Linked DNA regions of Homo sapiens: regions 1, 3 and 4 are each linked to region 2. Evidence: fine-mapped expression QTL. A gene starts in region 2. Each other region holds a variant in brackets. All regions are shown on one strand. Distances are between the middles of the regions.

Region 1 (5,686 bases), 140 kb after region 2:
GGGATTTCGGGGTGGGGTGGGGGAGAGTCGCCACCCACAGCAGGCTGGCCAGAGCGTCTGGGAAAGGAGTATGTGTGCAGTTTGGGAATGGAATCATCTCTTTTTCCTGTTCGTCTCTTCTTTCTATGGTATTCTCTTATGTGGCGCTATGAAAATTTGCCTGGCACTTTTCTTTTTTATATTTTAGTTCTGATTTACATAAAATCTCCTCCAAATTAGGAAAATTCTATTGCGTATAATGTCAAGAACAATAGTAGCGGAAGGGAAAGACTTGAAGTGAGTGTACACTCCACCATAATAGCTACGTCTGTGTGTTCATATGCATCAAATTTGAATACGAGGCCAGCAATGCTGCTTTTTAACTGTTATATTTCTGTTATGGAACCCTAAGCCTGTCTTCCAGGAGTCTTCAAACACACTGGAATCAATGGACTCTTGCAAGCCGTAACAGTTATACAATTTATCTGCAAAGTTACTGTGGTCAGGCACTGGGGTGAGTGCTTCACCTGTGCTATTTCATCTTCTAGAGAAGGGACTAATAATATCTCCACTTTAAAAATGAAGAAATGTAGGCTTAGGCCAGGTGCGGTGGCTCATGCCTGTAATCCCAGCACTTTGGGAGGCCGAGGCAGGCAGATCATTTGAGGTCAGGAGTTCGAGACCAGCCTGGCCAACGTAGTGAAACCCTGTCTCCACTAAAAATACAAAAATTAGCCGGGTATGGTGGTGCATGCCTGTAATCCCAGCTACTCAGGGGGCTGAGGCAGGAGAATCGCTTAAACCTGGGAGGCCGAGGTTGCAGTGAGCTGAGATTGTGCCACTACACTCCAGCCTGGGTGATAGAGGAAGCCTCTGTCTCAAAAAAAACAAAACAAAACAAAACAAAAAGTAGGCTTAGAAAGTTTAAGTAATTTGCTCAAGTGATGTAGCAGCTGAGTGGTGTGACTGAGATTTGAACCCAAGTAATTTTGGCTCTATCCTATTAGGACATTTATTTATGTTCTTGAGCATTAAAATATTTTTGGTCGTCTCATAATGAACCATGCTACTCAGATATAAAAACTAGGAAAGCACTGTATCATTTCAAAAGAATATTAACAATGTCGGGCCATGGCTGTGTAATGCTTTTCTCTGTAAACAGTACATTTATCAATCAACAAAGGGAAATGAGTCTCTGTGAGATGGAAATAATAAAAGTCTGACCTTCCCCTCTGAGAAAAAGCCATGAGGACTAATTAAGTAATGGCTCCACTCCAGTTCTGCAGGGCTAAGTAATGAAGGACCTGGGAGGACTCCAGCTCTGTTTTCCAGAGATTATGTTTGACTGTGGCACTGGGCATTTTCCACATATCATCTTGATAATTACTTGAAAAGCAAAACTTAAAGCATTTCACTGATTACGATTTTTTTTTCTTGCTGAGATATCCATGATTTAAACTGTCAGGGAGGGTCACTGGCCTAGAATTCTTCTTGGGTGATTCATTGCAGAGTGAAAATACTGACTTCTAATCTCAATGTGGCCTTACATTTTAGAGATGTTTTTGTACATGAGTTTGCCTTCCTTTCCTTCTTCTCCTTCCTCCCCTTCCCTCCCTTCCTCCTTTCTTCCTTTTTCTTTTTTTTTTTTTCTCTTTTTCCTTAAATCCTGAGAACTGTATTTCCTCTTTTAAGCTAGATTGCTGGAGATAGCTTTCATGGTTTACAAACATGTATACAAAAGTTGCCCAGCAGTTCTCCTACAGATGGTGGTCTGTTGGTGTTCCTAATCATATATGTGCTTTTTTAAAAAATAGACTAATGGAATGATTAAAACAACAGAGGCCAGGCACAGTGGCTCACACCTGTAATTCCAGCACTTTGGGATGCTGAGGTGGGCGGATCATGAGGCCAGAAGTTCGAGACCAGTCTTACCCACATAGTGAAACCCCATCTCTACTAAAAAACAAAAAATTAGCCAAGTGTGGTGGTGTGCACCTGTAGTCCCAGCTACTCGGGAGGCTGTGGCAAGAGAATCGCATGAACCCGGGAGGTGGAGGTTGCAGTGAGCCGAGATCGTGCCACTGCATTCTAGCCCAGGTGACAGTGCGAGACTCTATCTCAAAAAAAAAAAAAAAAAAAAAAAATAGGGACAAAAAGACTACTTTGACTTTGTGTTTGTCTAATACCTTCTTTCAAACATTCGCATGTCCATGCTTGCTTGTTGCAAATTCGAAACAATTTTATGTTTGGTTTTGGCTTTGTGGGGTGTCTGATTAATTGAAAGTGAGTGGAATTCTGGAGAATGAGCAAGAAGAGACTAGGCTGAGGATAGGAGTGAGAGCACACACAGGTGGCACCATAAATCTCTCCTAAGCTGTAGTCAGTGCACAGGAAAGTCCATGGCCTAAAATCGGGGTTATGCACGCCCCCCACCGCCACACACACACGTTTATGTCACAGCTGCCGAGGAGCACTCTGAGAACCTTTAATACAGCGTTTACATGTGCATCCTTTAAAAAATACTTCATGAGTCTTTATGCCAAATAAATGTTTCCTTCGCAGCCCAGGCCACTTCCTTCAAACGAAAGCCATTAGTGTGAGCGATTACTGCAGCCCAGCTGTTCCCCAGCAGCACACCGGGCCAGTAAACAGAGCAAAGGTCTGTGCACAGCTGCAGGCTGATGTCACTGTCTGGGGCTGGGCCTGCTGCTTTGGACTATTACAATAACAGCAGTGAACCTCCTGTTCCC[C/G]CATCTGACCCATTTTCTCCCTTTCTCTTTCCCGTTTCTTCCCATGTGTCCTCTCTTCACCTCACTTATCAAAACGTCAGAGCTGCCTTTTTTTTTTTTGGTGAATAGAGGGAAACAGCCCTGTCCCATGGCTAATAGGAAAGGACTTCTGTGTATCCTATTTGGTTTTAAAGGCTGATGTGCCACAATTACATATTCAAAGCGACAGTATTTTTATCATAAACAGATGTGTTAAAATCAGCCAGGGTAGTCTGCTATTAACGTCAGCTTCGAAGCTCTTCTAGCCCAGGGCTTGGAGGCAGTCTCTTGTTTATTGCTGAGTCCCTGAGTTCACTTAGATGTTTCTGTCCCAGATATGAGCTTCCAGATGGGTTCAGATCTTGTTCCTGCTTTTTTATTTTTTAACTTTGGAAATACCGGAAATTTTAAGAGAAGCAAGTGAAAAGCCTGCGTGAAACTAGAATTTCTCTGACTAGAAGCTATTTGATACCTTCACCAACGGCTTGCAAAGTATGTTTCTGTTGTAGGTTTTCATAGAAAGTTCTAATACGAGATTCACACGAGGAGCCTTCAGAGTCGGAAAGTTACTTGGCAGAAGCTAATGCAGTGTTTACTCGTTTGACTAACATTGGACTTCTTGAGTCATTTTTTCTTCTGTGGTTACTAGTGTAATAGAAGGAAAAGTGAATGTGCAGAGAATGTTCTCCAGCAGTCAAGACCATCACTATCTTTCACTAAATTCTTTTAAAGGAGAAAAGAAACTTTTAATATTCAGTCCCAAAGGCTTGAGTTGCGTGCGATGGCCCCTGTAATCTGGCCTCCGTCTGTCTTTTTGGGTTCTATCTTCTCTGCTTTGTGAGTTTCTTAATCACCAAGGCTCACCGTTCTGTCGCCCATCATTGCTCATGCTGGGATAGGATTTTCATCCTTGATGCCTCAATTTTATTTCTATCATATGGCTTAATTTGAAAATCTACTGACCAAATCATAACCACAGTGATGTACTCATTAGGATGGCTGTTACATATATTTGAAAAAATCAAATAGGTTCTGGTGAGCATGTGGAGAAATTGGAACCCTTGTGTGTAGTACTGCTGATGGGAATGTAGAATGGTTCAACCACTATGGAAAAGAGTACCATAGTCCTTCAAATAATTAATAATAGAATTGCCATATGAGTCAGCAATTCCTTCTGGGTATATACACCAAAGAATTGAAAGCAGGGACTCGGGCATGTATTTGTCCCCCGGTGTTCATAGCAGCATTATTCACAGTAGCCAAAGGTGGAGGCAACCCAAGTGTCCGTGGATGGTAAGTGGATACACAAATGTCATCTGTACGTGCAATGGAATATTATCATTATTATTATTTGACACGGAGTCTTGCTCTGTCACCCAGGCTGGAGTGCAGTGGCGTTATCTTGGCTCACTGCAACCTGCACTGCTTGGGTTCAAGCGATTCTCCTGCCTCAGCCTCCCGAGTAGCTGGGACTACAGACGTGCGCCATCATGCCCCGCTAATTTTTGTATTTTTACTAGAGATGGGGTTTCACCATGTTGGCCAGGCTGGTCTCGAACTCCTGAACTCAAGCGATCTGCTTGCCTTGGCCTCCCAAAATGCTGGGATTACAGGCGTGAGCCACTGCACCCGGCCAACAATGGAATAATATTGAGCCTTCAAAAGGAAGGAAATTGTGACACATCCCACAGCTTGGATGAGCCTTGAGGACATACGCTAAATGAAATAAACAGTCACAACAGGACAAGTACTATTTGAGTCCAGGTATATGAGGTACTGAATGGTCAGATTCATAGAGAAAGAAAGTAAAATGGTCGCTGCCAGGGCCTTGGGGAAGGGGAGGGGATGGGTTGTTACTGTTTAATTGGTACGAAGTTTCAGGTTGGGGGGAAACGTTCTGGAGAATGGATGATGACAAAGCTTACACAACGATGTAAGTGTATTCAATGCCACTGAATCATACACCTAAAAATAATTAAAATGGTTAATTTGGTATCTGCTTCATCACAGTTTTTTTGTTTTTGTTTTTGAGATGAAGTCTTTCCCTGTCGCCAGGCTGGAGTGCGGTAGTGCGATCTTGGCTCACTGTAACCTCTGCCTCCCGGGTTCAAGCGATTCTCCTGCCTCACTCAGCCTGCTGAGTAGCTGGGACTACAGGCACACACCACCACGCCCAGCTAATTTTGTATTTTTAGTAGAGATGGGGTTTCACCATGTTGGCCAGGATGGTCTGGATATTTTGACCTCATGATCTGCACGCTTCGGCCTTCCAAAGTGCTGGGATTACAGGCGTGAGCCACTGTGCCCAGCCCTCATCACAGTTTTTATTTATTTATTTTTTAATTGTTTTAAAAATCTGACCAAACCTTTGGTCCACCCTGACTGGACGTAAACTATCCTGAGTGCCACTCCCTGGGCCCCAAGGTCTGGCCTGGTCCTGCCACTTCTCCTCTGTCTGTTGTCTCTTCCAGTAGAGGCCCCATCATGCGCCTTGCCAGCCCCAGCACAAGAAACAGCTTGGTAGAAAAGAAGGGGCACGGGCTTTGGGTGCAGGCAGAATCAGAATTCAGACTGCTCACCGAAACCCATCCTCTCACGCTTGCCAGCTCTGTGCCCCTGGGCAGATGATTTAGCCTCTCTGTGGCGGTTTCCTTATCTATATGTTTAGGAGGGTCCTCTGTGAGGGTTAAACAAGATAAAGAGCCCCATTCTGTGCCAGGCAACGAGAAATAGTTTTTGTTTTGGGGATTTTTTTTTAATGTTAAATCTTTGCCCTTCAATAAACATTTGTAGATTGATTTAATTTTTAAGGGTTCTCTTTGGCAGACACTATTCCTGCCATTATTTCAATGTGGCCTCCTTTTCCTCTGAAAGAATACTGACTGGGGGCAAGTGACTTGGGTATTTCTACCACCACATGGCAGGTTCCTGAGATAACA
Region 2 (5,380 bases):
TCTCCTGTGTGTTGTAAGATAAACTCTTTTTTTTTTTTTGAGACAGAGTCGCGGTGCGTTGCCCAGGCTGGAGTGCAGTGTCACAATCTCGGCTCACTGCAAACTTCGCTTTCCAGGTTCAAGGGATTCTCCTGCCTCAGCCTCCCAAGTAGCTGGGATTACAGGCGCCTGCTATCATGTCTGGCTAATTTTTGTATTTTTAGTTGAGACAGGGTTTCACCATGTTGGCCAGGCTGGTCTCCAACTCCTGACCTCAGGTGATCTGCCCGCCTCGGCCTCCCCAAGTGCTGGGATTGCAGGCATGAGTCACCGTGCCACCACGCAGGGCCAAGATAAACTCTTATACGTATAGTTGCAATATTGTTAGGTATCCTGACCTTCCCCCTAGGGAGGTCATTATAATTTACATTTACATTTTCATTGTGACTGCTAGTCTACACTTTTACCAACACTGTGATTATCAAACTTTCTAATCTTTGACAATCTGATAAGTGAAAAAATGGTTTCTCAATACAGTTGCAATTTGCATTTTCTTATGGAGGAAAAAAAATTGAGCCAACTTTTTTTTTTTTTTTTAGAATAAAGAGCCACAAAGTTATGTGAGTTATTATTTTATCCTTAATATTGCTCCTGGAGTCTGTAGCAGGTCAGCATCAGAGTTCAGAGATCAGGAACATGGCAACATGCCCAGAACCAAGATGAAAAGAAAAGCCAATAGGCCCCATTTCATGAATATTTGCCTTGAGGAGTCCCTGAAGATGTCCCTAGAAGTTAACTTCTGTTTTTATGTGGAGACAATTAGAAGCTAAGTTTCAGATTCCCCAATGCCTGCGTAAGTAGCTCTAATTACTTAGCAGAGCATTGTATGTTTCCCCCCTTCAAACCACCTGACACAAAAATGAAGTAAAACAGGTTCTATATTTATAGATATAACTAAGCCACACAATAGGATTGTGGGGTTTAGACCAAATCATCTAGGTCACATCAGGGTTATAAAGATTAAATGATATGTTTCACACAAGAACTATTCTGCTTAGGGATGGAGGCTTGTTGCTAATTAGCATAATTGCCTCGTGACTTGCGGAAACTATGTCAGCGTTTTGTTTTGTTTTTGTGTGCTTTTTCAGAGGGAGACTCATCTGGTGGTGTTAAATACTATATCTATTTAAAATTAATCACATGCCTTTCCTAACAACACGGATCATGCTAGTTGCATCTATCTTTACAACAGGGATTTCTGAAGCAAATGAGAGGTGTCATTATGTAATGGAATTAAAAGAGAAGATTAGGAGTTAGGCTGGCTGGGTTTGCACTTGCCCTCACTGGCTGTGTGACCTTGCGCTAGTCACTTGACCTTTCTGAGCTTCAATTCCTCATTTGAATAATGGAGATAATCTGACCTATATACCCCTGGGTTTTGTAGTCAGGAAATAATGGATCATTGTACATATGAAAAGTCTTTACAACTATCAATGGCAAGACATCTGTCAGTTATTCTAATATTCATGGTATAGAAAACTGTGAAATACAGAGTCCTTACGTCTATTCTCCAAAAAAGTTCACTTCTCTTTAAAAGCTTTTAGCAAACCACAATCCAGGTAATTAAAAAGGAAATATTAAAATTTTGTTCTCAGGTTGTCTGACATTTCACGGTTCAGCAATGTGACATCTCTCACAGGCAGAATAGCATCTTCGGACAAGTTTTCTATTAAAAATATGCTTTATAGAAGAAAATATTTTACGGACCTAGAAGACAGCTGTCGATGAAATTTGCTCAGTTTAGCAAACAGCAAGGACTGTGTTTGTGTTTAGAGAAAAGTAGGTCGAGCCTAGTTTATCTCCCTGGGGTTCTAGACTCCTTTCCACGTTGTATCTCAAGCTCTAATAGCTGGAAAGCTACTTTCTTTAACCTTTAATACACACTTGCTAGTAAACTTGCTAGAAGCATGAAGATAATACAGACTGCGAATCAGCCCTTCTAAGAGACAATCACGACTCCTTCCTTGCAAGCTTCCGCCCTGATAATTCTGCAACCTTCCCACCTTCTATACGCCCCGCGGTGCGAGGCCCCTCGGCCTGCAGGTGGCCAGAGGCAAGCAGGAGTCAGATCCCCCACCTACCGCGGCCCGGCCTGGGCCCTAGCGCTGGGTGCGGCGGAGCCCCGGGCTCCTGCGGGGACGAGCGTGGTCCCGGGACGCGCGGTGCAGCCAGGTGCGCCGGCGGCAGTGGCAGCCGCTGAGCGCCGCGTCGCACGTGGCAACAGGTGCAGCGCTGTCCCGGGCTGGCGCCGGGGGGCGTGGGGCGCGTCCGCACTTAGTCCGGGAGCGCGCGGAGCGTCGGGATTGGGACCCGAGAGCGGGAGCGGAGAGCGGGAGCGCCCGAGCGGAGTCCAGCGCCCCGAGGTACGGCCTCGCACGTCATTCAGGTTCCCCGAGGGCCGTCCCCTGGGACGGCGGCTGGCCTTGGTCTCCCGCAGCGAGCCGCTGGAGTGGAGCCTTCGGAAGGAGCCGCCCCGGGTTGGGGCGGGAGGCCCGAGTTCGGCTATTTACAAGTTTCCCGAACTCCCCGCCCTGCTCCACCCCCTGGCGGCCCCGGAGGCGGGGAGGCGGGGAGGCCGGGGCTCCGGGTCCCGCCTGGTAGCCGCCGCAGGCGTGGGGTGGTGCCGCGCCGCGCGCCCCCAGGTGCAGACGCCGCCCCCGAGACCTCCGGGGCGGGTTCTCGGCGACCCCGCCAGTGGTGCAAAGGGCGCCAGCCCTCCCCGCCTCTGCGTCTTTGCTCCCGGAGCGCTTGAAGGAGCTGCGGGTAAGTGCGCGCTGGAATCTGTTCCCGCTGCCCGGCGGCCGGGGTGGGGAGGGGACAGGCGAGCGCGCCGCCCAGGGTGACGGGACCGGTCCTCGGGGAGGGGAGGGGGCGTTCCAGGGGCCTGGGGGCCGAAGCTGAGGGCTAAAGGGGGCGGCAGCGCCGGCGGAGCGGAGGCGGGTCTCACGTGGGCCAGCGCAGAGCCTGCGGAAGGGACGGATGCGGATCTCGTCGCTGTCACCTTGAAAGTGACCGAGGGGCTTGACTGTGGACTCCTTACGCCGCCCACCCGGGCCCGGCGGTCCCAGCCTTCTCGCAGGGCCCCTTCTCAGCAGAAGCAAGCGGGGCCGAGAAAGCGGGTGGAATAGGGTTGCTGCAGGTCCCAAAGACCCCTCGTGGCGCCTCGCTACTTTCTGCAGCTTGTTTGCACTTTTTCACGCTCTAGAAAAATCTCATCTTAATTAAGGTGACCTTATTGACTACTCTATAGTGCTTAGTGGACTTAGGTGTTCACTGAGGAACGTTTTTGTTCTTTTTTGAAGACGTACTCCTTTCTACCAAGTTGTTTGTTGATTTTTGACTTGGAGTAATTTGGGACTAGGAAGGAAGAGGTTAATTCATTTAGCCTGCGTAGTTACACATACTCTGTTAAATACTGTTTGTTTGAAGTAGTCAGTGTTCTAAGAAAGGAAATCCAGTGTGTTTTGTTTGTTTCAATGAAACCAAAGTCTTAGGCAAAACGGTGCGTGGAAGCTTTCAAGTTTTGCCAGGTGCAGGTGATCGAAAGTCAATCATCACTAAATCACAGCGCTGGGGCTGGAGGGTGGGAGTAGGGGTGTTACCAGTGAATTTCAGGAGGAAGGGAGGCAATGCAGGAGGGAGGGGATTAAAAAAGAGAGTCATTGCTTCCTGGGAACCAGTGACCTCTTTAAGGAGGGTATATACAAGATAACAGTGCATGGACAACTTTAAAAGGAATTGCATAAACGGAATTGCAATTCTGTAGACAGTTTGCTTTTTCAGGGATGGTTAGGGCAGGAAATGATACACAACTTAAAATGGTGATGTCCTGTTAGTACAGTGCTTTACAGTGTAGAAAGTGCTGTTACAGATTTTTTTTTTTTCATAGGCAATATATTCCATTAGGAAAGCTATACAAAGAAAAGATTAGAACTACATGCTTATCCTTAAAACCAAAGCTAAAAAACCTTAGAAGTGGAATTTAGTTTAAAATAATATGTAGTTATTTATGTAACTTGCACCACGTTTTTTCACCTGTTCTTTTTAAAATCAGGTTTATGAAGAGAAAATAATTCTTGGTAAATCTGCTTGGTAGAAAATCATGCTTGGAACAAGACCTTTTAATTATGTCAATAAGTCAAGGTTACATTTTGGAGTATAATAGGATTATAAGATTCTAGATAATATCTTATATTTTTTGGAAACTAACCTGCAGTTATTACACTCAAGCATTTAAAAAGCCTGTTACTTAATAGCCCTGTTCTGTTAACCCTGTTTGTTTTGATTTCAAAAGTAATCCGTGCTTGCTGTATAAAAATAGGTAGATTGAGAAAAGTGAGTTAAGCAATTTCAGCAAAGATAATCACAGTTAATATTTAAGAAAATACTTGTTAATATATAGAAAAATTTTTTATAGTTATATAGTTTATCTAAATATACTATTGCGTGGAGGTTTTTTCCTGATTAATGTATCATGAAAAATTTTCCATGTCATGAAATCTTCAGAAATCTTAGTGGCTACTTAATATTACATTACATAGATGTATCAAACTGGTTTTCATTTATTTCCACTTACTAAATATACTTTTGCAACAAATACGTTTTTAAAACTTTATGTGCAGGGTTAATATCCTTAGTGCCCTTGAAATACAGTTGATGGTTGGAAGATCTCCTCATACATATTGACCATTTGCTTTCCAAAAAATGTTTAACCAAATTATGTTCCCACCAGCTCTCTGTGAGAATACTGGTGTTACCGTATTCTTGTCAACATGTAGAATCATCCTTAAAGGGAAAAAAAAAAAATTCTTCCCAGGTTTATAGGTGAACAGTGCTTTCTCTATATTTAAACTTCAATTTCTTTGATTACAGATGATTTGAACACCAAAGAAATCTAGTTGTTTTCCATTTTGAAATTTGATGTAGTGCCAGATTTTTCTCCTGGGATATTAGTATTTTTCCATTAATTCATAAGAGCCTTTTATGGATTGATAGTAAATCTTTGCCATTCATATTGCAGATACTTTTCCCATTTTATCTTTGCTTTATATATTTACAGTAGTTTTGACATACACAAATTTCTTTAATGTTGATAAATCTGTTGACTTTCTCAAAACAGAATTTTTAACACTTCTAAATCGTAGCTTCAGAACTATATGTGACTGTGGTAGAAGATTTAAAAAAAATTTTCCAGCCGGGTGCGGTGGCTCACGCCTCTAATCCCAGCACTTTGGGAAGCCAAGGCGGGCGGATCAGGAGGTCAGGGGTTCGAGACCAGCCTGGGCAACATGGTGAAACCCCGTCTCTACTAAAGATACAAAAAATTAGTCAATTGTGTTGG
Region 3 (5,686 bases), 160 kb after region 2:
TGAGACTTTGGAAAAGGTGGAAGGAAGAACTGTTGCTTTATCTCCCCCTCCCTGCATGTGTCAACATTGTGATGTCAGTATTTACTAATCTACATTCAGTGGCTGTACAAATAACAGCTGTAGTAAGAAGAGATTCAGGATGCTAGAGGTGAATATTTGGGTCATTTACATGTACACTACATAGCAAGTTGATACTCATGTTGCATGTTCTTTTAAATTAGTGATTTTGTGTCTTAAGTCTTTAACTTCCAATACTTCATCATGTATGTAACCTTCCATGTTTGCTTCTGATAAATGGAAATGTAGGTTCACTGCCACTTCATGAGATATCTCTGCTCACGCTTCCAAGTTGTTCTCAATGACATTAGCCAAAGTTGGGTTTGCCATTCATCCCCTAGGCATGGTAAATCTTGTGTTGTTCCCTGCTGTCCTCCGTATTACGTGACCGGCAAATAAATCTCATAGCAGTTAATATAAAACATCTTTGGAGGATGGGAGAGAACAGGAGGGAAGATGGGAAACAAAATAGAGAATTCTTAAGATTTTGTTTAAACCAAATGTTTCATGTAGAATGCAAAATGTTGGCACGTCAAAAATATGAATGTGTAGACAACTGTAGTTGTGCTCAGTTTGTAGTGATGGGAAGTGTATTTTACTCTGATCAAATAAATAATGCTGGAATACTCAAGAATTGCATCCTCTGACCTACTTCATTCTTCAAATTCTTCATTTTTACAGCCCTGTGACAGCACAGTAAAGGTCGTATCTCCTCTTAGTTTATATTTCCCAGGAATTTCCACTGCAACCGCAGAGTTGGTCATGGGCTCACAGAGCTAGAGTGAGAGGTAAGCTCTTCTTCTCTAAATTCAAAGCTATCTATGTTTGACAAATAAATTTTGGCTGGCTGTAACAATTTCTGCTGTATAAGAAAATTGGACAAACTTGGTAAATATTTTTGAATATCGTAAAAAATGTCTAAACAAAGTTGAATGTTCTTAATCTATGCATCTATTTCATATTGAAAGCTAAACTTCTAAAAACTTGTTCTAGTTATTGAATAGACTAATCTACAATTACACCTTTGAGTGCAGCAGTTTAAAAAAATGAAGTGTCCTTGAATTTTTTCAGTACCTTCATAAATTAACTCACATTTGTTAAAGTTGCTACTAAGACAAAATGACATTTCTAAGCATTTGAGTCTGGAGTTGTTGCTTGTGGGTAAGTAGTTGAACTGTATCTAGTACATTTTAAAATTCTAATATATTGCGGTGATATAAAAGAGAATACTTGGTATTGACCCACGTATCACCACCACCAAGTCTTTCTGGATGTATTTTAAGTCAACTTAACTTAAAAAACACTTATCCCACTTTTTATTTTTTACAAAAACGTGCTCATTTAATAGAAATGATTGATTATATAAAATTGTTTACACATGTATAAAAACTAGGAACACGTATGTAGGTAAGCAATCAAAATCATGCTTTCTGTTAGAAAAGTTAACACTTCTGTGAATAGACTGGATGACTTCCTTTTAGTTTGGATGTCTGGGTCGGACTCACGAGACGCTGGGGTTGGGGTGTGGTGCTTGACATCAGCCTCTGGCAAAGCACTAATAAAAGGAACCCCAAAGCTGACTGTGTACACAAATGGGCTTTCCATAAGTTCATTACATTTCCTTTTCCAAGTCAGGAAAACTCAACAGTGGTAGCTACTGTGGTCTGTCCTTGAAGATTCTGAGCAGTGCAAATGTAATATCCTGCATCAATCGTCTCAAAGTCTTCCACTGTAATGACACTCTGGGAGATTCTCGTGGTGTGTCCCAGTCCTCTGTGGATCAACCTCCAAGTGTCTTGGATCGTCACAGGCCTTTCATCCTGTTTAACGACACCCACAAAGACTGAAGCAAGAGGGACAAGCTGCTATAAAGAGCTCCCACTCACCCAACACTGTTGAGCGTTCCTTTCAGAGAGCAAAGCACATGCTTATAAAAGACTGTTTAGTATGCGTAGCTCATAAGCTGTGGAAGCTTCTACACTGGAATCATTTTAGGTTGCATTTTTTCCAAACAGCCCTTGAATTTCATTACGTTGTTTGGCACTGTCTTTCTGCCCTTTTCTTCTGTAAGGTTTTACTTAATCTAAAATGTATGCTTTTAGAACTCCAAGGAAGTGGAACTGGTATTAAGCATAAGCAGGGACAAAATTTTCCACTGGCCCCGTTCTTCACATTGCCCACTTTCTTTTCCTAGCTAAGTGGTTCTTACCTACAGAACTGAAAGTCAGTAGCCTGAAAAAGCACCCACTGTATAAATGACTAAGAGCTCCCAATTGCTCAGATTTGAGAGAGGGAGAAGTATGATTAGGCCAGTGTGCCTTAGGACTCTAGTGGGAGAAAAGTTGTACCAAGGATGGGTAAGATAATGTACTACATGACAGGACCCCTATTTCTACAAAGTGCGATGGTCACTTTTGAGATGTCCACCCAACTCCAGTGATAAGAACATAGTATTTTCTGAATTCATGTAACAGAACTAATATATCACTAAGTGAATACCTTTTCTCATAAAATACCAAATAGCAATGTGGCGGGGACCTCTATTGAAAATCATCAATGTCCTGTAAGTATGACCAACACGTTTGATAATCAAGTGCCTGGTACCAGGATGCCGGAAAACACTATTCCCCAGAGACAGTTATTTTCTACCAATCACAGCCCATAGGCCAGAAGGATGTCAGCTACTTAATGTGTCTTGTGGAGGCCAAATCTCTTCTGGCAACAAAGGGATTATTCCGTGCTGGGAGCAGAGCTGTTATTTTAGCAAGCAGAACATGCACAAGGGCTAAATACGCTGCAATTGCTTTTATGAGAAGTCTACTTTAAAATTATCTCTGGCCTCACAGCACCTTTTTGGCGTGGTCTATGTCCACTTGGTGGATGTCTGCTCACAGCAGCTTGCCATGGGCACAGCTTGTATAGAGAACACTCTAGCCAAGTGAAACACAGGAATAGAAAGGAGCAGCAGAAAGAGCCCTATGGGCTCTCTCAGTCCCCAAGGAAGCCATTTCTGACTTTGTCTCACAGAGATCCCTGGAGAGGGCTACCAGAGAAACTGGGAAAAGACCACAGGGAGAAGGAAACTTCTAGCTGAACTTTGTAACAATTTTGACCAAACACAGTTTCCTGGACAGAACTCGGGTGAGGGGGTGAAGCAGGAGTGCAGACACAGCACAGAAACCGTGGCAGGTAGGAGATGTGAAATCTGAAAACCCTGTTTGCTTTCTTATCCAAGAGGCTGGTAGCCTGGGACAAGTTCTCAACCCTGCTCATCCACTGCCTAGAAACAAACTCGGTGCTGTTGGCAGGGACAGAGGGAGTGAGACCGGCCCTTTGGGCTACGTGGGAGCTGGGTGAGGCCTGTAACTGCTGGCTTTCCCCCACTTCCCTGGTGACCTGCATGACACAGCAGAGCAGCCATAATCCCCTGAGGAACATAACCCCATTGGCCTGAGAACCACACC[G/C]CCAGTCCCAACAGCAGCCATAGCAAGACCCGCCCAAGGAGAGTGTCTGAGCTCAGACACGCCTAGCCCACCCCCAACTAATGGTCTTTTTCTACCCACCCTGGTAGCCGAAGACAAAGGACATAATCTCTTGGGAGCTCTAGGGTCCTGCCCACCACCTGATCCTCCCTATACTACTGCAGCTAATGCTGTCTTTAAAGTGCCACCTCCTGGCAGAAGACCAACACAAAACTAGTGCAATAAACGAAACTACAACTAAGGACCCTCACAGAGTTCATCCATTTCACTCCCCTGCCACCTCCATTAGAGCAGCTGCTGGCATCCATGGCTGAGAGACCTGAGACATCAAAGGACTCTGTACAGGCACCACTAAGTACCAGCCCAGAGCCCAGTAACTCTGCTGGGTGGCTAGATACAGAAGAGAAATAACAATCACTGCAGTTTGGCTCTCAGGAAGCCACACACATAGGGGAAGGGGGAGAGCACTGTATCAAGAGAGCACCCCATGGGACAAAAGAATATGAAGAGCAGCCCTTGAGCCCCAGATCTTCCCTCTACCATAGTCTACCCAAATAAGAAGGAACCAGTAAAACAATTCTGGTAGTATTTCAAAACAAGTTTCTTTAACACCCCAGAAGATCACACTAGCTCACCAGCAATTTATCCAATCCAAAAAGAAATCCCTGAATTGCCAGAAAAAGAATTCAGAAGGTCAGTTATTAAGCTACTCAAGGAGGCATCAGAGAAAGGTGAACTCCAACTTAATTAAATCAAAAAAGATACAGGATATGAAGGGAAAAATCTTCAGTGAAATAGATAGCAAAAATAGAAAACAATCATAATTTCTGGAAATGAAGAACACACTTAGAGAAATGCAAAATACATTGGAAAGTCTTAGCAATAGAACTGAACAACCAGAAGAAAGAACTTCAGAACTCGAACATCAGATTTTTGGATTAACCCAATCGAACAAAGACAAACAAAAAAGAATTTAAAAGAATGAACAAAGCCTCCAAGATGTTTGGGATTATATTAAACAAACAAACCTAAGAATAATTGGTGTTCCTGAGGAAGAGGAGAAATCTAAAAGTTTGAAAGACATATTTGAGGGAGTAATCAAAGAAAACTTCCCTGGCCTTGCTAGAGAGCTACACATCTGAATACAAGAAGCTCAAAGAACACCTGAGAAATTCATTGCAAAAAGATCGTCACCTAGGCACAGAGTCATCAGGTTATCTAAAGCGAAGATGAAGGAAAGAATCTTAAGAGCTGTGAGGCAAAAGCACCAGATAACTTATAAAGGAAAACATGTCAGATTAACAGCAGATTCCTCAGCAGAAACCCTACAAGCTAGAAGAAATTGAGGCCCTACCTTCAGCCTCCTTAAACAAAAGAATCATCATCTAAGAATTTTGTGTACAGCAAAACTAAGCTTCATAAATGAAGGAGAGATACAGTCTTTTTCAGACAAACAAATGCTGAGAAAATTCGCCACTACAAACCCAGCACTGTAAGAAATGCTAAAAGGAGCACTAAATATTGAAACAAATCCTTGAAATACACCAAAATAGAACCTTCTTAAAGCATAAATCTCATAGGACCTATAAAACAAAAACACAATAAATAAATAAATAAATAAAAACCAAGGTATTCGGGCAACAAATAGCAAGATGAATAGAATAGTACCTCACATCTGAATACTAATGTTGAATGTAAATGGCCTAAATGCTCCATTTAAAAGATTCAGAATGGCAGAATGGGTAAGAAGTCACCAACCAAGTATCTGCTGTTTTGAAGAGACTCACCTAACAAATAGGACTAACATAAACTTATGGTAAAGGGCTGGGAAAAGATATTCCATGCAAAGGGACACCAAAGTGAGCAGGAGTAGCTATTCTTTTTGTTTGTTTTGTTTTGTTTGAGACAGAGTCTCACTCTGTCGGCCAGACTGGAGTGCAATGGCTCAATCTTGGCTCAATGCAACCTCCACCTCCCAGGTTCAAGTGATTCTTGTGCCTCAGCCTCCTTAGTAGCTGGGATTACAGGTGCAGGCCTGTCTTATAGAGGAGTAGCTGTTCTTATATCAGACAGAACAAACGTTAAAGAAACAGCAGTTAAAAAAGAGAAAGACGGACATTATGTAATGATAAAAGGACTTGCCCAAC
Region 4 (5,686 bases), 92 kb after region 2:
GCGATCAGTGATCTTCCATGTTACTGTTGTGATTGTTTTGGGACACCATGGACCATGCTCATCTAAGACAGTGAACACAGCTGATACGTTTGCATTTCAAGTGCTCCACTGACTGGTCCCTCTTCCATCTCTCTCCCTTTTCTTGGTCTTCCTTATTCCCTGAGACACAATAATATTGAAAGTAACCAATTAATAGCCCTATAATGACCTCTGAATATTCAAGTGAAAGAAAAGTTGCATGTCTCTCACTTTAAATCAAAAGATAGAAATGATTGAGTTTAATGAGGAGGGCACATTGAAAGCCAGGATAATTCAGAAGCCAGGTCTCTTGTGCCAAGCAGTTAGCCAAGTTGTAAATGGAAAGGAAAAGTTCTTGAAGAAAATTAAAAGTGCTCCTCTAGTGAACACTCAAATAAGAAAGCAAAACAGACTCCCGGCAGAGAGAAAGTCTGAGTGGTCTGACCAGAAGATTAAGCCAGCTGCAACTTTCACTTCGGCCAAAGCCTAATCCAGAGTGAGACCCTAACTCTCTTTAATTGTATGAAGGCTGAGAGAGGTGAGGGAGCTGCAGAAAAAAAAAAGCTGGAAGCTAGCAGAGGTTGGTTCATGAGGTTTAAGGTAACTCTTCATAACATGAAAGTACAGGGCGAAGCAGCAAGTGCTGATGTAGAAGCTACAGCGAGTCATCCAGAAGATCTAGCTGGGATCATTTGATAAAGGTGGCTACACAAAACAACAGACATTCAGTGTAGGTGAAACAGCCTCATATTGAAAGAAGATGCTGTTTAGGACTTGCACAGGTAAACAGGAGAAGTCAGTGCCTGGCTTCAGATGACAAGCTGTCTTATTAGAAGCTAATACTTCTGGTAATTTTAAGTTGAAGCTGACGTTCACTTACCATTCTGAAAATTCTAGGGCCCTTAAGAATTACGTTAAATCTACTCTGCCTGTGCTCTATAAATGAAACAACAAAGCCTGGATGACAGCGTATTTGTTTACAGTATGGTTTGCTGAATATTAAGCCCATTGTTAAGACCTACAACTCAAGAGATGTCTTTCAAAATACTACTGCCGACTGACAGTGCACCTGGTCACCCAAGAACTCTGATGGAGTATAGTATAGTGTATTACATAGTAATATATAGTACAAGAGTATAGTACAGGAAGATGGATGTTTTCACACCTGCTAACATAGCAGCCACTTTGCAGCCCATGGATCAAGGAGTAATTTTGACTTTCAGGTCTTACTATTTAAGAAGTACATTGTGTAAGACTGTAGCTGCCCTAGATACTGATTCCTCTGATGGAACGGGGCAAAGTCAGTTGAAAACCTTCTGAAAAGGGTTTGCTCTTCTAGATGCCATTAAGAACATTCGTGATTCATGGGAGGAGGTCAGAGCACCAACGTGAATAGGAGTTTGGAAGAAGCTGACCTAACCGTCATGGATGACTTTGAGGGGTTCAGTGCTTCAGTGGAGGAAGTCACTGCAGATGTGGTAGAAATAGGATGAGAACTAGAATGAGAAGTGAAGCCTAAGGTGTGACTGCATTGCTGTTGATCTCTGGTAAAATTTGAGCAGATGAGGAGTTGCTTCTTATGAATAAGCAAATAAAGTATCTTCTTGAGATGGAATCTACTCCTGGTAAAGATGATGTGAACACTGTTGAAATGACAAAGGAGTCCGAATATTCCATAAACTTAAAGCAGTGGCAGGGTTTGAGAGGATTGACTCCAATTTTGAAAGACTCTCTGCTGTGGGTAAAATGCTATGAAACAGCATCACGTGCTACAAAGAAATCTTTCATGAAAGAGTCAATTGATGTCGCAAACTTCATTGCTGTCTTACTTTAAATTGCCACAGCCACCCAAACCTTCAGCAACCACTACCCTAATCAGTCAGTCAGCAGCCACCAACATTGAGGCAAGATGTTCCACCAGCAAAATAATTCCTGCTCACTGAAGGCTCAGATGATCTTTAGCATTTTTTAGCAATGAAATATTTTTAAATTAAGGTGTTTTTTTTTTTTGAGACAGAGTCTTGCTCTGTCGCCCAGGCTGGAGTGCAGTGGCATGATCTCTGCTCGCTGCAAGCTCTGCCTCCCGGGTTCACGCCATTCTCCTGCCTCAGCCTCCCGAGTAGCTGGGACTACAGGTGCTCGCCACCATGCCCGGCTAATTTTTTGTATTTTTAGTAGAGACGGGGTTTCACCGTGTTAGCCAGATGGTCTCCATCTCCTGACTTCATGATCCACCTGCCTCGGCCTCCCAAACTGATGGGATTACAGGTGTGAGCCACCACGCCTGGCAAATTAAGGTATATATTTTTTTAGACATAATGCTGTTGCACACTAGACTATAGTGTAGTGTTAATATAAGTTT[T/C]ATATGCACTGAGAAACCAGACAATTTTTGTGATTTGCCTTATTATGTCATGTGTCTTATGGGGTGATATATATCTCCCAGGTATGCATGTAATGTTACAGAATGTTGACTACAGTTTGTTCACACATTGTGAGTGTCAGGTGTTAAGGATGCAGTCCTGAGCGAAGAATGAGCAGGGGCCTTGTCTCTGGAGAGCTAATAGGATAGTTAAAAAAATAAAATAAAAAACCTGCTCAAATAGACATGAATCACAAATGCACTGAGTTCTAGGAAGGAGGGTTGTCTTGTCCTAGAAGAGAGGTCCGGATTGAAGGCTGTCATGTGAGGGAAACCTGGGCAAGAGGTATAAATTTCTGAGCCTGTTGTGTAAAGAAAACAGGGTGGGATAACATTACATCATGAATAACATGAATAACAAATATCCTTGATGCCCCATCAGGTGTATTCAGTTTCCTCAGTGTAATAAGCAGGGAAGTGTGGGGAAATTATCTCAGAATTCTTTTTCTTTTTTTTTTTTTGAGGCAGAGTCTTGCTCTGTCGCCCAGGCTGGAGTGCAGTGGCGCGATGTCTGCTCACTGCAAGCTCTGCCTCCCTGGTTCACGCCGTTCTCCTGCCTTAGCCTCCCGCGTAGCTGGGACTACAGACGCCTGCCACCATGCCCGGCTAATTTTTTGTATTTTTACTAGAGATGGGGTTTCACCGTGTTAGCCAGGATGGTCTCGATCTTCTGACCTCGTGATCCGCCCGCCTCGGCCTCCGAAAGTGCTGGGATTACAGGCGTGAGTCACTGCGCCCAGCTATCTCAGAATTCGTAACCTTTTGTAGGCTCTTAAAGCTAGGAAGACAGCCATGCAGAATGATCTAAGTTCTAAAGATCCCCAGGATGCTGAGTGTGAATATATGTGGTTACTAAAGCCTTTATAGGGTAAAAATGCAGAAGAAACTCTGCTGTACACATTTAGGCTTTTATTTCCTTTTAAGTTTCTGGTACATCCTAATATCTGGGGAAAAAAGATAGCTAATATTCTATGGAATGGCTTTGTTTAAAAATTAGTTAACCATTATCAGAAAACTGGCTCAATTGGTAGCTCTGTGTTTAACAGTTTAAGAAACCTCCAGGCTGTTTTCCAAAGTGGCTGGACCACTTTATATCCTCACCAGGAGTGTATGAAGAATCCTGTTTCTCCACAGCCTTGTCAACACTTGGCTTTGTCTGTCTTTTTTATTATAGCTATCCCTACTGGGTATGAAGTGATACCTCATTGTTGTTTCAATTTGCATTCTGACAGCCAGTGACATTGAGTGTCATTTCGTGTGCTTACTGGCCATTTGTATATCTTCTTTGGAGAAGTGTCTATTCAAATCATTTGCCAGTTTTAAACTGGGTCATTTTTATTGTTGAATTGTAGGAGTTCTTGTATAGTCTGATATTAGACCCTTGTCAGAGTTATCATTTGCAAATATTTTCTCCCAATTCTTGGGTGTGTTTTCACTTTCTTGATAATGTCCTTGGAAACATAAACGTTTTAAATTTTGACAAGGTCCACTTTATCAACTTTTTTTCTTTTGTTGCTTCTGCTTTTGGTATTGTATCTCAGAAACAGTTGCCTAATCCAAGGTTGTGAAGATTTAAGCCTGTGTTTTCATTTAAGTTTTTTTTGCTATTCTAGCTGTTATAGTTAGGTTTCTGATTCATTTTGAGTTACATTTTTATATGGTATGAGATAGAAGGTCTAATTCTTTTTTGCACATGGACATCCAGGTGTTGAAGACATGTATTTCCCCCATTTAAATGCCTTGGCACCTTTGTTAAAAATAATTGGTTAAGAATGTGAGGGTTTATTTCTGATTTCTAAATTGTGTTCTTTGCATTTATATGTTACCTTTGCCAGTGCTACACTGTCTTGATTAGTAAGTTTTGAAATCAGGATGTGAGTCATTCAACGTCTTTCTTTTTCAAGATAGTTATGGCTATTCTGGGTCCCTTGATTTTCTGTATGAATTTTAGGATCAGCTTGTCAATCTCTGTAATGAAGTCAGGTGAGGTTTTAGGAATGTAATCTAATAATTCCAATTCTAATAATTTCTGTTACATTGAATCTATAGATGACTCTGTATATATAGAATGTATTCTAAGGGGTCAACATTGCAGCTTAATCTAGATTGTGTGGTAGGCCTCTGTATTTTCCCGAAACCATAAGCATGACTTTCCCAGGTTCTTCTCGATGGTTAGTTATTATCATGACTTAAGACTAACCTGGTATTATGAGGAGCCTAGTGAGGAAAAGTTACTGTGTGGACAGAGGACCACAACAAAGTGTGTTTGCTTTGGAAAGACGACTTTGATGCTGAAAAATGATGCTGAAAAGCCAGTGACTTTGGGTGGATCATTGAACCTCTTTGATAATAGTTTTCTATGTAACTGAAAGGGTGGATTTCTAGATTTCTCCCTACTGTGATATTCTGTGACTGAAAATCACCTTGACTTTTTTCATATTCTGCTGGAAATGAGTCATATTTTAGCTGATACAGAAGACATTGCCTCCACACATAAACATGTTCCTCTGAGTGTAAATTTTTAATCGTTGTACTATGGCTTTGAGATATTTTTATTTTAAAGCTGTAAGTAGTGGTGGAGATTACAGTTGAGTTGACCAACTTCATATTCCTTAGTTCTAGTAAAATAATCACTTTTAATTATAGCAGTTTGCCAAACTTCAAAAAGTTTAGCATGTAGTTTAGAAATCACCCTTCAGCTTTTTAAAATTTGTCGTTTTAAATGAAATTTAGATAAGTGTATATCCTGCTTTGTCATTTAACATATAGTAATCACTTTTACATTTAGCAGATACAGTAACATTTAACTACTTTTGAATATTTAGGGTGCTTCTGTATCACATTCATAAATGATTCTATGATGAACATCTATACAATTAGCACTTTCAACTTTCAATTTCTTGTGATAGATTATTAAAAGTAGTATCAGGAAATCACAATATGTACCCATTTACAGTCACTTCACTCAAATAGCCAAATTGTTTTCCAAAAGCTTCATATCATTTTATACCGTGGTTGACATAAAAGACACCTGGCTTCATCATACCTTGGGTCAACATTGGATATTATTTTTAAATTTTTTTGACTAACATAATAGTTTAAAATGTTACATCATTGTTTTAGCTTGACCTTTATCAATTAAAGAAATTACATTATCTCATAAGACAATGTAGAAAAGCAGGAGGAGAACGAACTTTTAAGGCACGGGATGTTGGTTTAAACCTTCGTCCTGCTGCTTTCTATTTGTGT

Which allele goes with the higher level. Positions count from the first base shown, and alleles are read on the strand shown. Sizes are in standard deviations (SD) of each study's normalised expression. Not every link is listed here.
With allele G in place of C in region 1, the expression in skeletal muscle of the gene that starts at base 2,769 in region 2 is higher (large effect, 0.86 SD a copy in GTEx).
With allele C in place of T in region 4, the expression in coronary artery of the gene that starts at base 2,769 in region 2 is higher (small effect, 0.27 SD a copy in GTEx).

What was found. PIP is the estimated chance that this variant, and not a neighbour inherited with it, causes the effect.
Region 1: its variant is the best candidate, but not a certain one, in a credible set for the expression of MTUS1 in skeletal muscle (GTEx, PIP 0.82).
Region 3: its variant is the best candidate, but not a certain one, in a credible set for the expression of MTUS1 in lung (TOPMed, PIP 0.80).
Region 4: its variant is the best candidate, but not a certain one, in a credible set for the expression of MTUS1 in coronary artery (GTEx, PIP 0.72).

The regions. Positions count from the first base shown.
Region 1 is chr8:17,658,787-17,664,472 of GRCh38, reverse strand. The region is part of intron 8 of MTUS1 (microtubule associated scaffold protein 1); the gene reads left to right. Among named protein-coding and RNA genes, the nearest start is that of MIR548V, 20 kb to the left of the region's middle. RefSeq lists enhancers at 2,499-2,793, 4,591-5,091. The variant C/G (reference allele first, on the strand shown) is at 2,730.
Region 2 is chr8:17,798,483-17,803,862 of GRCh38, reverse strand. It overlaps MTUS1 (microtubule associated scaffold protein 1), which reads left to right and starts at 2,769. Exons shown (of 15, transcript NM_001363059.2): 1 at 2,769-2,802. MTUS1-DT (MTUS1 divergent transcript) reads right to left here and starts at 2,521. Exons shown (of 3, transcript NR_186403.1): 1 at 2,121-2,521. RefSeq lists silencers at 2,166-2,355, 2,396-2,455, 2,536-2,655.
Region 3 is chr8:17,638,804-17,644,489 of GRCh38, reverse strand. PDGFRL (platelet derived growth factor receptor like) reads right to left here. Exons shown (of 6, transcript NM_001372073.1): 6 at 1,346-1,877. The coding sequence ends at 1,689. MTUS1 (microtubule associated scaffold protein 1) reads left to right here. Exons shown (of 15, transcript NM_001363059.2): 15 at 1-688. Among named protein-coding and RNA genes, the nearest start is that of MIR548V, 40 kb to the left of the region's middle. The variant G/C (reference allele first, on the strand shown) is at 3,522.
Region 4 is chr8:17,706,349-17,712,034 of GRCh38, reverse strand. The region is part of intron 6 of MTUS1 (microtubule associated scaffold protein 1); the gene reads left to right. Among named protein-coding and RNA genes, the nearest start is that of MIR548V, 28 kb to the right of the region's middle. The variant T/C (reference allele first, on the strand shown) is at 2,381.